2 separate regions of the Homo sapiens genome follow, and region 2 is linked to region 1. The links come from fine-mapping of genetic effects on gene expression. A gene starts in region 1. The other region holds a variant in brackets. All regions are shown on one strand. Distances are from middle to middle. Region 1 holds the start of PEX5 (peroxisomal biogenesis factor 5). Region 2 overlaps PEX5 (peroxisomal biogenesis factor 5).

Region 1 (5,372 bases):
CAGTGTTTAAGAGCATGGACTCTGGAATAAGACTGTGTAGGTCAAAGATCCACAAACTATGGCCTGGTCCCTGTTTTTCCATAGTCTGCAAGCTAAGAAGTATTTGACGTTTTTTGGCTGGGCACGGTGGGTCACATCTGTAATCCCAGCACTTCAGGAGGCCAAGGGGGGTGGATCATCTGAAGTCAGGTGTTTGAGACCAGCCTGACCAACATGGTGAAACCCCATCTCTACTAAAAATACGAAAATTAGCTGGGCATGGTGGCATGTGCCTGTAGTCCCAGCTACTCGGGAGGCTGAGGCAGGAGAATCACTTGAACCTAGGAGGTAGAGGTTGTAGTGAGCCGAGATTGCGCCACTGCATGCCGGCCTGGGTGACAGAACAAGACTGTCTCAAAACAAATAAGTATTTGACATTTTTAAATAGTTGGAAAAACATCAAAAGAAGAAGAATATTTTGTAACATGAAAATTATATAAAATTCACATTTCAGTCCCCATAAAAAGCATTACTGGAATACAGCCATGCTCATTTGTTTAGGTGTGGCCTATGTCTGCTTTTGTGCTCCAACAGCAGGGTTGAGTCACTGTGACAGAGACTGCATGGACTACAAAGCCAAAAATATTGACCATTGAGCCCTTTACAGTTTGGTGACCGTGGTCTGGGTTCAAATCCCAGCTCTGCTATTTATTAGTATGACCTTGTGCAAGTCACTCAACTTCTCTGTGCCTCAGTTTCCTCTTTTGTAAAATGGGGGATAATAGTTATTATTAATAACTATTAGGAGGATTAAATAAATCAATAGTTGAAAAGTGCTTGAAACAATGCCTGGCACACAGTCAATGCAATGTGTGTCTAAACATCTATTGAACTTGAATTCGTCAAACATTAAAGAATAAGTAAAAATTATTTTTATTTTATAAAAATTACTACTTTTATGAATAGAACAAGAATTTAAAGTTGAACCTGGATTAACAAAATCTAGGGTTTCAAATCTAGAGCTTCAGTAAATTAAATATTAAACACCAAAGTCACTCTATTAGCCCTTTCCCAGCACCTCTGGCTGGGACTGTGGACCAAGTTCTGTGAATGATTCTATGGCCTAGGAGATCAAAGATCTCCATGGTTTATCAGTAAGTCTTCTCTAAGACTGGGAAGTAGGTGCCTAGAGTTATGCCTGGATTAAATTTTGACTTCCTAGCCATCTGATTTTGCACAAGTCTTATCTGTAAAGTGGGTCTACTAATATCTATTTAATAGGGGTATTAAGAAGATTAAAAACATTGAGATACATAAAGTGTTTTACACAACACCTGGATTTTAGTAAACATCAGTTATTATTATTAGCATTCTTCCAAGATCTGCACACAAAGTGAGTTACGGCTAATCAGTTGATAAACTCCTAGCAGAGCAGAAGGTTATGTGTGTTGTGATGTTTAAGTGGTACTGGGAAACTCTGGTTGCCTTGAGGTTCTGAAATTCTACTGTATCAGATGGGTTCCTTTAAACATTGCTCTCTCTAGGGGGTCCTCTTTTTAAAAGTATGCACCTTCTGGAGGGCATCTCTTCATCCTTGTGTGGTTTAGTTTATCAGGTATTTTCCTCACGATGGCAGCCTGAGAACAGGGGACGCCCAAGGGCTGGGATTTGTGTGCTCCGGAAGAAAACGGGGTGTAGAAGTGGGGCCTCTGAAAGAGGGCGAAAAGGCAAGGAAAAGGAGAAATGTTGCACAGTCTTATGGTCTGTCCCCTGCCATTCTGTTCCCCTGAGGTGTCAGAGCAGCTTCTCTGTCTTCCCAGGGATGAGTTTACACAGACATTCCCTGTGGCCCCCTGAGGCCTCCACCTCTGAAATCTGCAGAACAGCCAGGAAACAAGCCCGGCCCATGGCGCCACCTGCTGCCTGCCTGCCTCCGCTCATGCACCCTGGGCTGGGATGGTACTTCTGTTCGTCTGGCATTATTGCCCTTGGTCATTTACCGGCAGCCCTGGGCCCCTCCTTGCTCTTCTCCATGACACTAGGACTCCCTTGGTCTTGAAGCTGGGTGAGATTATCAGGGTTTGTTTCTCAATGACTTTGAGGTTTGACAGCAGAGCACACTCTTTGGCAGATGAGGGGGCTTGAGGCTTAGTCTTATTCCGTGATTAAAAGCATTTCTTGTATGTTTGTCCTTTCCCAGCCTGGAGTGATGGGAATAAGGCCACTATGTTGACTTAGCGGAAGGAAGGGCTGACTCACTGTTCACCTTCCCTGTACGTTACCAGCTCGAGGTCTCAGGATGCGTTGGACCCTATTTTGGTCTCCGGAATTTGTCATCATGCAGTGCTATTTTCCCCATTATGCAGAGGTGGAGAGGGATTAAGGCGGGGGCGGGCCCCTGTCTCCATGGAGACAGTGACGCTACCCCGCTAGGGGTTATTTGGAAGCGGGGCAGGCCTAGGAGGCTGAAGAAGGCTTCGGACTGGACTCCCCAGCCCCTGGTGTTAGGGCTTTTCTCTTTCTTGGGCTTGGGAACATTAGCCAGCCCCATTTTAGAGGGGAAAACTGAGGCTCAGAAAGGGCACTGAATCCCCTTAGGTCACAATGCGCCCAAGGGAAGAGGCAGGATCGACTGAGCCTAGGATCTCGCGTCTTCGGCTTTCCCCCAGAGCCTGGGAAGCCCTTCTTAGCTCCACTCTTCTTTGAGCTTTCCGTCAAACAAATCCTAGGGCCCGTGGCCTTTTCGAGCGCTCCTAAAGGCGACTCTCCAAGACCCGCTCTCTAAGGTGCTCTTCCCCTTTAAGACTCACGGCTCTTCCCGTCAGGCTGCGTCGCAGTCTTAAGGCCCCGCCTTTTCAGACAGCTTCCGCTGGGCCTGGGCCGCTGCGGGGCGGTCACGGCCCCTTTAAGCCTGAGCCCCGCCCCCTGGCTCCCCGCCCCCTCTTCTCCCCTCCCCCAAGCCAGCACCTGGTGCCCCGGCGGGTCGTGCGGCGCGGCGCTCCGCGGTGAGCGCCTGACCCCGAGGGGGCCCGGGGCCGCGTCCCTGGGCCCTCCCCACCCTTGCGGTGGCCTCGCGGGTCCCAGGGGCGGGGCTGGAGCGGCAGCAGGGCCGGGGAGATGGGCGGTGGGGAGCGCGGGAGGGACCGGGCCGAGCCGGGGGAAGGGCTCCGGTGACTTAAGGGGAGGGAATGCTCCTCTGCCGTGCTCACCGCGTGCTGGGGCTGCGCGGGGCTAGGTATGGTCGGGCTGTTTTCCCACTGTCCCTTCTTCGGGCAGTGTCGCCGTCCAGCCTGGTTGTTGAAGCGTCCCCGTGGTCCCCCGGGGTCCAGGCCCCTTTGTGGAGGCAGCTGCTGGCCCCCAGCCCATGGGACCGTAGTCGCGGAGGCCTCTGCAGAGGCGCAGGCTGGAAGCGGTGGCCTTTGAGGGGGGCGGCAGGAGAGAGTACCGACCTCCCTCGAACTCCTGGCAGAGGTGGGGGTCGCAGCAAAAGCACTGGGGTGGAGGGCGGCCAGTGTGGGGCAGACGCCTGTGTGCCTTCCTCAGATACGGGCAGAGTTGTGGATGTGAGAAGGGTCTGGCTTGGGTACCTCAGTTCCAAACCTCCTGTGTCCATCAGAGAGCTGGCGGTCACCATGGCAATGCGGGAGCTGGTGGAGGCCGAATGCGGGGGTGCCAACCCGCTCATGAAGCTCGCCGGGCACTTCACCCAGGACAAGGCCCTTCGGCAGGAGGGATTGAGGCCTGGCCCCTGGCCCCCCGGAGCCCCGGCCTCTGAGGCAGTGAGTGTTCTTGAGGTGGAAAGCCCAGGTGCAGCCTCTGAGGCAGTGAGTGTTCTTGAGGTGGAAAGCCCAGGTGCAGCCTCTGAGGCAGTGAGTGTTCTTGAGGTGGAAAGCCCAGGTGGTGGTGGTCTGAGGTGGAGGGGCTGTTTGCACATCTTGGTATAACTGCTTTCTCTATTGTGTTGCAAATCATAGTAGTTACCACTTACTGAGCGTTTATAAACACTAGAAAACCCTGTGCACCTTTAAATAAATGCAACCATTTTATAGATGAAGAAGCCGAGGCTCAGATGCCTATGGGCTTCATCAACCCCTGATTTTAGAGGAACTGCGTCATTGTACATCTCTGTCTTTCTCTCTTAGGCCTCCAAGCCTTTGGGAGTAGCTTCTGAAGATGAGGTAAATAGACCAGTCTCTTTTCTGTCCCATTTTTCTCTTGCCCACTGTGTTTTTACCTTTAAACTTAGTTCACCCGTATTTCAATTTTTGGGCTTTCCTGACCGAATGAGAATGCCTGCTTGTTTTTAAATGTATTTTTTCGTCCTTCTAAATCTATGGAAAGACAGTTTCTCTTTATGTGTCTCCAGTTTCTGTGTTTTCCTTTCCTTGTATCTAACATTGGGATCCCCCTCCAGTGGGTCCTGCCTCTTGCTGGGGCCTCCCAAGCCTATGGGTTCATTTCATCATTTCCCTTCTGGCAGTTGGTGGCTGAATTCCTGCAGGACCAGAATGCACCCCTTGTGTCCCGTGCCCCTCAGACCTTCAAGATGGATGACCTCCTGGCTGAGATGCAGCAGATTGAGCAGTCAAACTTCCGCCAGGCTCCCCAGAGAGGTGAGTCCAGAGTCTAGTGGGAGGGGAGATCGTTTTCCATGTAGCCAGGGCCAAGGAAGGGGGTTCCATTGGATGCTGCTGGCATTGGGGACCTGAGATGCAGAAGGAGACAAAAGTAACAGAGTGTTTTCACGTGGATTCAGGGTTCTTTAGGCATGATGGAATGGTATGTATGTATTCTTTCTTAGTTTTCTCTCTCTCTCTTTTAAGCCCCTGGTGTGGCAGACTTGGCCTTGTCTGAGAACTGGGCCCAGGAGTTTCTTGCAGCTGGAGATGCTGTGGATGTAACTCAGGATTATAATGAGACTGACTGGTCCCAAGAATTCATCTCTGAAGTTACAGGTGAAACTTGTTATGGGAAAATCTATATTGGCTTCTATGGGACAGAATTCTATACCCTTCCCCTGTTCACGTTATAGTGTGATTACGATTTTTCTGGTCTCATGACTCATTTCTAGAGGGGTAGGGTACTGAACTCAATTTCCCTTAGGTGATAACGGAATGTAATGTATATTAAAGAGAGGACTGGGTTTGTACTGGATAAGAGATTTTGGATAGAGAGAACGAAGAGTTTGGTTGGCCTTTTTACTTTATCACTGTGGTTTAGTGGAGAGGATCTACAGATTGGATGGATGGCAGTGTTGCCGAGGAAGAGAGTATTCACTACAGCACCTGGGATTCTGGCCTTAAGTTATTTGGAACAGAATTGGGGCCTTCAGAGTGTTATTGTGAAGTTCCAGTGCCTGAAGTGTATGGCTTTAGAAGGTAAAGACCATACCA
Region 2 (5,372 bases), 22 kb after region 1:
TTGATCAATGAAGAAATTAATTTGGGGGGATGGGAATAGAGACATTCATCTACCTACTTTGTGTTTTTTTCCTTTTCATCCAGCTCCCTGTTTCTTGAAGTGAAAGAGCTCTTCCTGGCAGCTGTGCGGCTGGACCCTACCTCCATTGACCCTGATGTGCAGTGTGGCTTGGGAGTCCTTTTCAACCTGAGTGGGGAGTATGACAAGGCCGTGGACTGCTTCACAGCTGCCCTCAGCGTTCGTCCCAATGTGAGCCCAGGGGAGGAATGGAAATGGGACATGACTGTGTACCTTATTGAAGAGCCATTTGTTGGGAAGCTGGGTTTGATGGTGCATGCCTGTAGTCCCAGCTACTTGGGAGGCTGAAGTGGGAGGATCACTTGAGCCTGGGAGTTCAAATCCAGCCTGGGCAACATAGCAAGACCCTGCCCACCCCCACAAAAAAGAATAATTTGTTCAGACTTTTGGAGTCTTGGGGTATTTCATTCCAGTGTTCCATGTACTGACTGCCTTGGGAGGACTGGGAAAAGAAGGCTGGGAGTGTAGGGTCATCTGGACATAAGAGAGTCTGCATAGGGTGAGAGGGGCTACATTGTAGCCACACACCGAACTGTTGAGAATGGAATGGGACGAAACATGTTAGCTAACAGAGTAGTGAAACAGCTGGAGTAATGTGCAGAGTTTGAGCTGAGTCGGTGGAGTAATGTGCAGAGTTTGAGCTGAGTCAAGCTGTTCCCATCCGTTCTGCATCCCTATCCCAGGACTATTTGCTGTGGAATAAGCTAGGCGCCACCCTGGCCAATGGAAACCAGAGTGAAGAAGCAGTAGCTGCGTACCGCCGGGCCCTCGAGCTCCAGCCTGGCTATATCCGGTCCCGCTATAACCTGGGCATCAGCTGCATCAACCTCGGGGCTCACCGGTGAGAGTATCTATTGAGAAATGAATGAATGAGCTTTTTCTCCCTGCCTTTGGCCCTAGCTCCTTATTCTTAGATCCTGTTTGACTAACCAGCCCTAGCTTTCTCCCTCCCACTGCTAGCTGACCTGCTTCCTTCCATTGTTGTTCAGCTTAACAGCTCTCATTCCTCTTCTTCCTTACAGGGAGGCTGTGGAGCACTTTCTGGAGGCCCTGAACATGCAGAGGAAAAGCCGGGGCCCCCGGGGTGAAGGAGGTGCCATGTCGGAGAACATCTGGAGCACCCTGCGTTTGGCATTGTCTATGTTAGGCCAGAGCGATGCCTATGGGGCAGCCGACGCGCGGGATCTGTCCACCCTCCTAACTATGTTTGGCCTGCCCCAGTGACAGTGGGACGGGCTGCCCTGTGAGTGTCCACCTGGAGGGATCCCCGCTTTGGATGTGATTCCCTCTCCCCAAATGGGCCTACCAAGGGGGCGGGCTGATGACCATAAGCGGTACGGCCTTTCAGGAGCTGCCTCAACGTAGGGGTGGGTAGTCTGTGTTCTAGTTCCTACATAATTGTAGGAAAATGAGCTGTGTCATCTCTGAGTCCCTTGGTAATTCAAGGGCTGTACATCCAGCTACAGATCTCTCTGCTCATCATGCCCTTTCTTGGTGCTGCTTTTTGGGTAGGACCCCACGATTTAGGGTAACTGTTATCATCAGCTGCCATTTCTGATAGGGTCTACCACATCTGTAATGTCTGTCCTTTCCCCCACTTTTACTGGGAATTGATAGTCCAGCTTCCTTGGGCAGTGTAAGTAGGAGGTTCATCTGCTGTGCGCCTCTAATGTCTGTCTGGATGGGATGTGTTAGGAGTTGGCCTGTTGGGTTGAATTGTTGATTTGGCTGAGCAGAGCTGAGTTTTGGTAGGAGTGCTCATGGTTCTGTCATTCTTGGACCTCTCCTGGCTGAGCTCTGATTCCCTGTGAGCACGATGCTGATGCAATAGTCCTGTGTCATCACTGCAGCGGTCCTCAGGAGCTGCCAGGGCCAATTGCTACAGAGTGTCTGGGTGTGTGGCATAGGAGGAAGGTTTGCTTGTGAAATGAGGCTGGGTGGGAGCGGGGAGGGACTAGATCAGAAGAGATCAAGGGCTCTATTCAGGAACGTTGGTGGGAGGACAGAGCAAGTGGGAAGGGGGTATGGTGAGTGCGGCAATCCCTCATCCTCTTAGAAGCACCTGTGAATGGGAATTGAGCCAACTGTTATAGAAAATTGGTTCAGAAAGTGCAATCTTGCCAGATTTCTAGCAAATAGGTTCAGTGTTACCATAAGCCTTTGCTGTACTTCTTGAAATGTTTCTAGGGGAGAGCATTGGAAAATCCCCTTCCCCCATCTAGATCGAAGGAAGATGAGGGAGCAGCTTGGATTCTTCTCAGTTGTCCCCTGCATGGGGAGATACACTAACCCCCAGAAATGACTGCTAAGCCTCTTGCCTTGTCTTTAGTAGCTAATGATCAGAGAGATTTTTTTTTTAAACTACCATGGTCCCAGGATTCCATCCTGAAATTTATTTTTCTTTGTATGAATATGTGTAAATGATTTAAAAATAAAACTGTAAAATATTTGTACGAAGAATAAATGGAACTGATGTGGGTATGAGTTCTGCTGGTCATGAAGCTGGGATGGCAGAAGGTGAGTTGGCGTTTGGAGGACTGGGATTCAACAGTTTCTGCCTTTCAAATTCTCACTGGTATATTGGTTACCTGCTCATCCCTCTAAAAATGATAGAGCACAGGAGACAGGGTCCCTGTTCTCTGGGCCTCTGGGCTAGCAGGAGAAAGAGATGTCGATAATCATGAATTTTTACTCCTGTTACTACTACAAAGGAAAGTGTGCAGTGCCATATAATTGTTAGGTTGTTTTGTATTATGAATTACATGGAAGGATTTTGATAGTTTTTCAGTGCTTAGGGTTTCTAAAGCTTTTCATCTGGCTCTGCCTGCCTTTATCGGGAACTGTATCAAGTGCCATATCAAGATGGGTATTTATCCTGAGGAAAAATTTAAAAATATACACAAATATTTATACTTGGAGATAGATGTTTGTGGGCACATTAGACTTGGAAAAAAAATTTTTTTTTTTTTGTTTTTTTTTTTTTAAGGCAGTGTTTCACTCTTTTTGCCCAGGCTGGAGTGCAATGGCGTGATCTCAGCTCACTGCAGCCTCCGCCTCCTGGGTTCAAGCGATTCTCCTGCCTCAGCTTCCTAAGTAGATGGGATTACAGGCATGTGCCACCACGCCCAGCTAATTTTGTATTTTTATTAGAGACAGGGTTTCATCATGTTGGTCAGGCTGGTCTCGAACGCCCGACCTCAGGCAATCCACCCACCTCGGCCTCCCAAAGTGCTGGGATTACAGACGTGAGCCAC[C/T]GTGCCCAGCCAAAAAAAAGTCTAACTTTTAAATTTATTTAAAAAGTTTTTCAAATAGAGACTAGATCTCACTATGTTGACCAGGCTGGTCTTGAACTCCTGGCCTCAAGGAATCCTGCCTCAGCCTCCCAAAGTTCTGGGATCACAGGGAGGAGCACCATACCTGGCCAAAGTCTAATTTTTTTTTTCCGGTGAGCTCAAAAGCTGCCAGAAAAAAAAAAAAAAAAAAAAAAAACCCAAAAAACAAAAAAAACAGGTCTAAAAGACAACTGGGTAAGTAAATTGTCCAGACAGTGAAATATAGCTATTGCTATTTAATCATTTATGGAATAATTTCCAGTGACAATAGATGCTAACAATATAGTGAGAAAAATGGTTGGTCAATTATTTACAGATTGTCTTAAGAAAAAAATGCATTGAAAAGACAATAGGGAACTATCCCAATGTGCTAAAAGTGGGGAGATCATACTTCTCTGTAATTCTCAAATTTTCTTGGTGCATGTTTGATACTTTTCTAGAGGAGAAAATTAAACACCTGGGGGAGGAAAACAGGAAGCTGTTGTGGCACCTGTCACCACCTGGGGGATCACGAGGCAGCTGGTGTCTTGGGCTCTGCAGGTTGGTGGTGCAAAGACCCAGGCGGGAAGTGGGCTGGGCAGGTGGAGGAGCAGTTTCCACACTACATAGGTGCAGGACATGACAAAGTCTGGCTGTGTAAATGACTTAAGAATTAAGCTATAAAATACCTAGGAATCCAACTTACAAGGGATGTGAAGGACCTCTTCAAGGAGAACTACAAACCAGTGCTCAAGGAAATAAAAGAGGATACAAACAAATGGAAGAACATTCCATGCTCATGGGTAGGAAGAATCAATATTGTGAAAATGGCCATACTGCCCAAGGTAATTTACAGATTCAATGCCATCCCCATCAAGCTACCAATGACTTTCTTCACAGAATTGGAAAAAACTACTTTAAAGTTCATATGGAACCAAAAAAGAGCCCACATCACCAAGTCAATCCTAAGCCAAAAGAACAAAGCTGGAGGCATCACACTACCTGACTTCTTCAAACTATACTACAAGGCTACAGTAACCAAAACAGCATGGTACTGGTACCAAAACAGAGATATAGATCAATGGAACAGAACAGAGCCCTCAGAAATAACACCGCATATCTACAACTATCTGATCTTTGACAAACCTGACAAAAGCAATGGGGAAAGGATTCCCTATTTAATAAATGGTGCAGGGAAAACTGGCTAGCCATATGTAGAAAGCTGAAACTGGATCCCTTCCTTACACCTTATACAAAAATCAATTCAAGATGGATTAAAGACTTACATGTTAGACCTAAAACCATAAAAACCCTAGAAGAAAACCTAGGCATTACCATTCAGGACATAGGCATGGGCAAGGACTTCATGTCTAAAACACCAAAAGCAATGGCAACAAAAGACAAAATTGACAAATGGGATCTAATTAAACTAAAGAGCTTCTGCACAGCAAAAGAAACTACCAACAGAGTGAACAGGCAACCTACAAAATGGGAGAAAATTTTCGCAACCTACTCATCTGACAAAGGGCTAATATCCAGAATCTACAATGAACTCAAACAAATTTACAAGAAAAAAACAACCCCATCAAAAAGTGGGCGAAGGACATGAACAGACACTTTTCAAAAGAAGACATTTATGCAGCCAAAAAACACATGAAAAAATGCTCACCATCACTGGCCATCAGAGAAATGCAAATCAAAACCACAATGAGATACCATCTCACACCAGTTAGAATGGCAGTCATTAAAAAGTCAGGAAACAACAGGTGCTGGACAGGATGTGGAGAAATAGGAACACTTTTACACTGTTGGTGGGACTGTAAACTAGTTCAACCATTGTGGAAGTCAGTGTGGTGATTCCTCAGGGATCTAGAACTAGAAATACCATTTGACCCAGCCATCCCATTACTGGGTATATTCCCAAAGGACTACAAATCATGCTGCTATAAAGACGCACACGTATGTTTATTGCGGCACTATTCA

What was found. PIP is the estimated chance that this variant, and not a neighbour inherited with it, causes the effect. A credible set is the group of variants that fine-mapping cannot tell apart.
Region 2: its variant is the best candidate, but not a certain one, in a credible set for the expression of PEX5 in skeletal muscle (GTEx, PIP 0.82).

What each region holds. Positions count from the first base shown.
Region 1 is chr12:7,186,767-7,192,138 of GRCh38, forward strand. PEX5 (peroxisomal biogenesis factor 5) reads left to right here and starts at 2,920. Exons shown (of 16, transcript NM_001351132.2): 1 at 2,920-2,984; 2 at 3,596-3,758; 3 at 4,122-4,157; 4 at 4,460-4,592; 5 at 4,803-4,934. The coding sequence starts at 3,612. RefSeq lists enhancers at 1,405-1,906, 1,907-2,406, 2,717-2,776, 2,777-3,493, 3,487-3,636 and 2 more and silencers at 1,817-1,866, 2,887-3,296.
Region 2 is chr12:7,208,922-7,214,293 of GRCh38, forward strand. It overlaps PEX5 (peroxisomal biogenesis factor 5), which reads left to right. Exons shown (of 16, transcript NM_001351132.2): 14 at 84-249; 15 at 762-919; 16 at 1,101-2,538. The coding sequence ends at 1,302. Among named protein-coding and RNA genes, the nearest start is that of PEX5, 22 kb to the left of the region's middle. The variant C/T (reference allele first, on the strand shown) is at 3,333.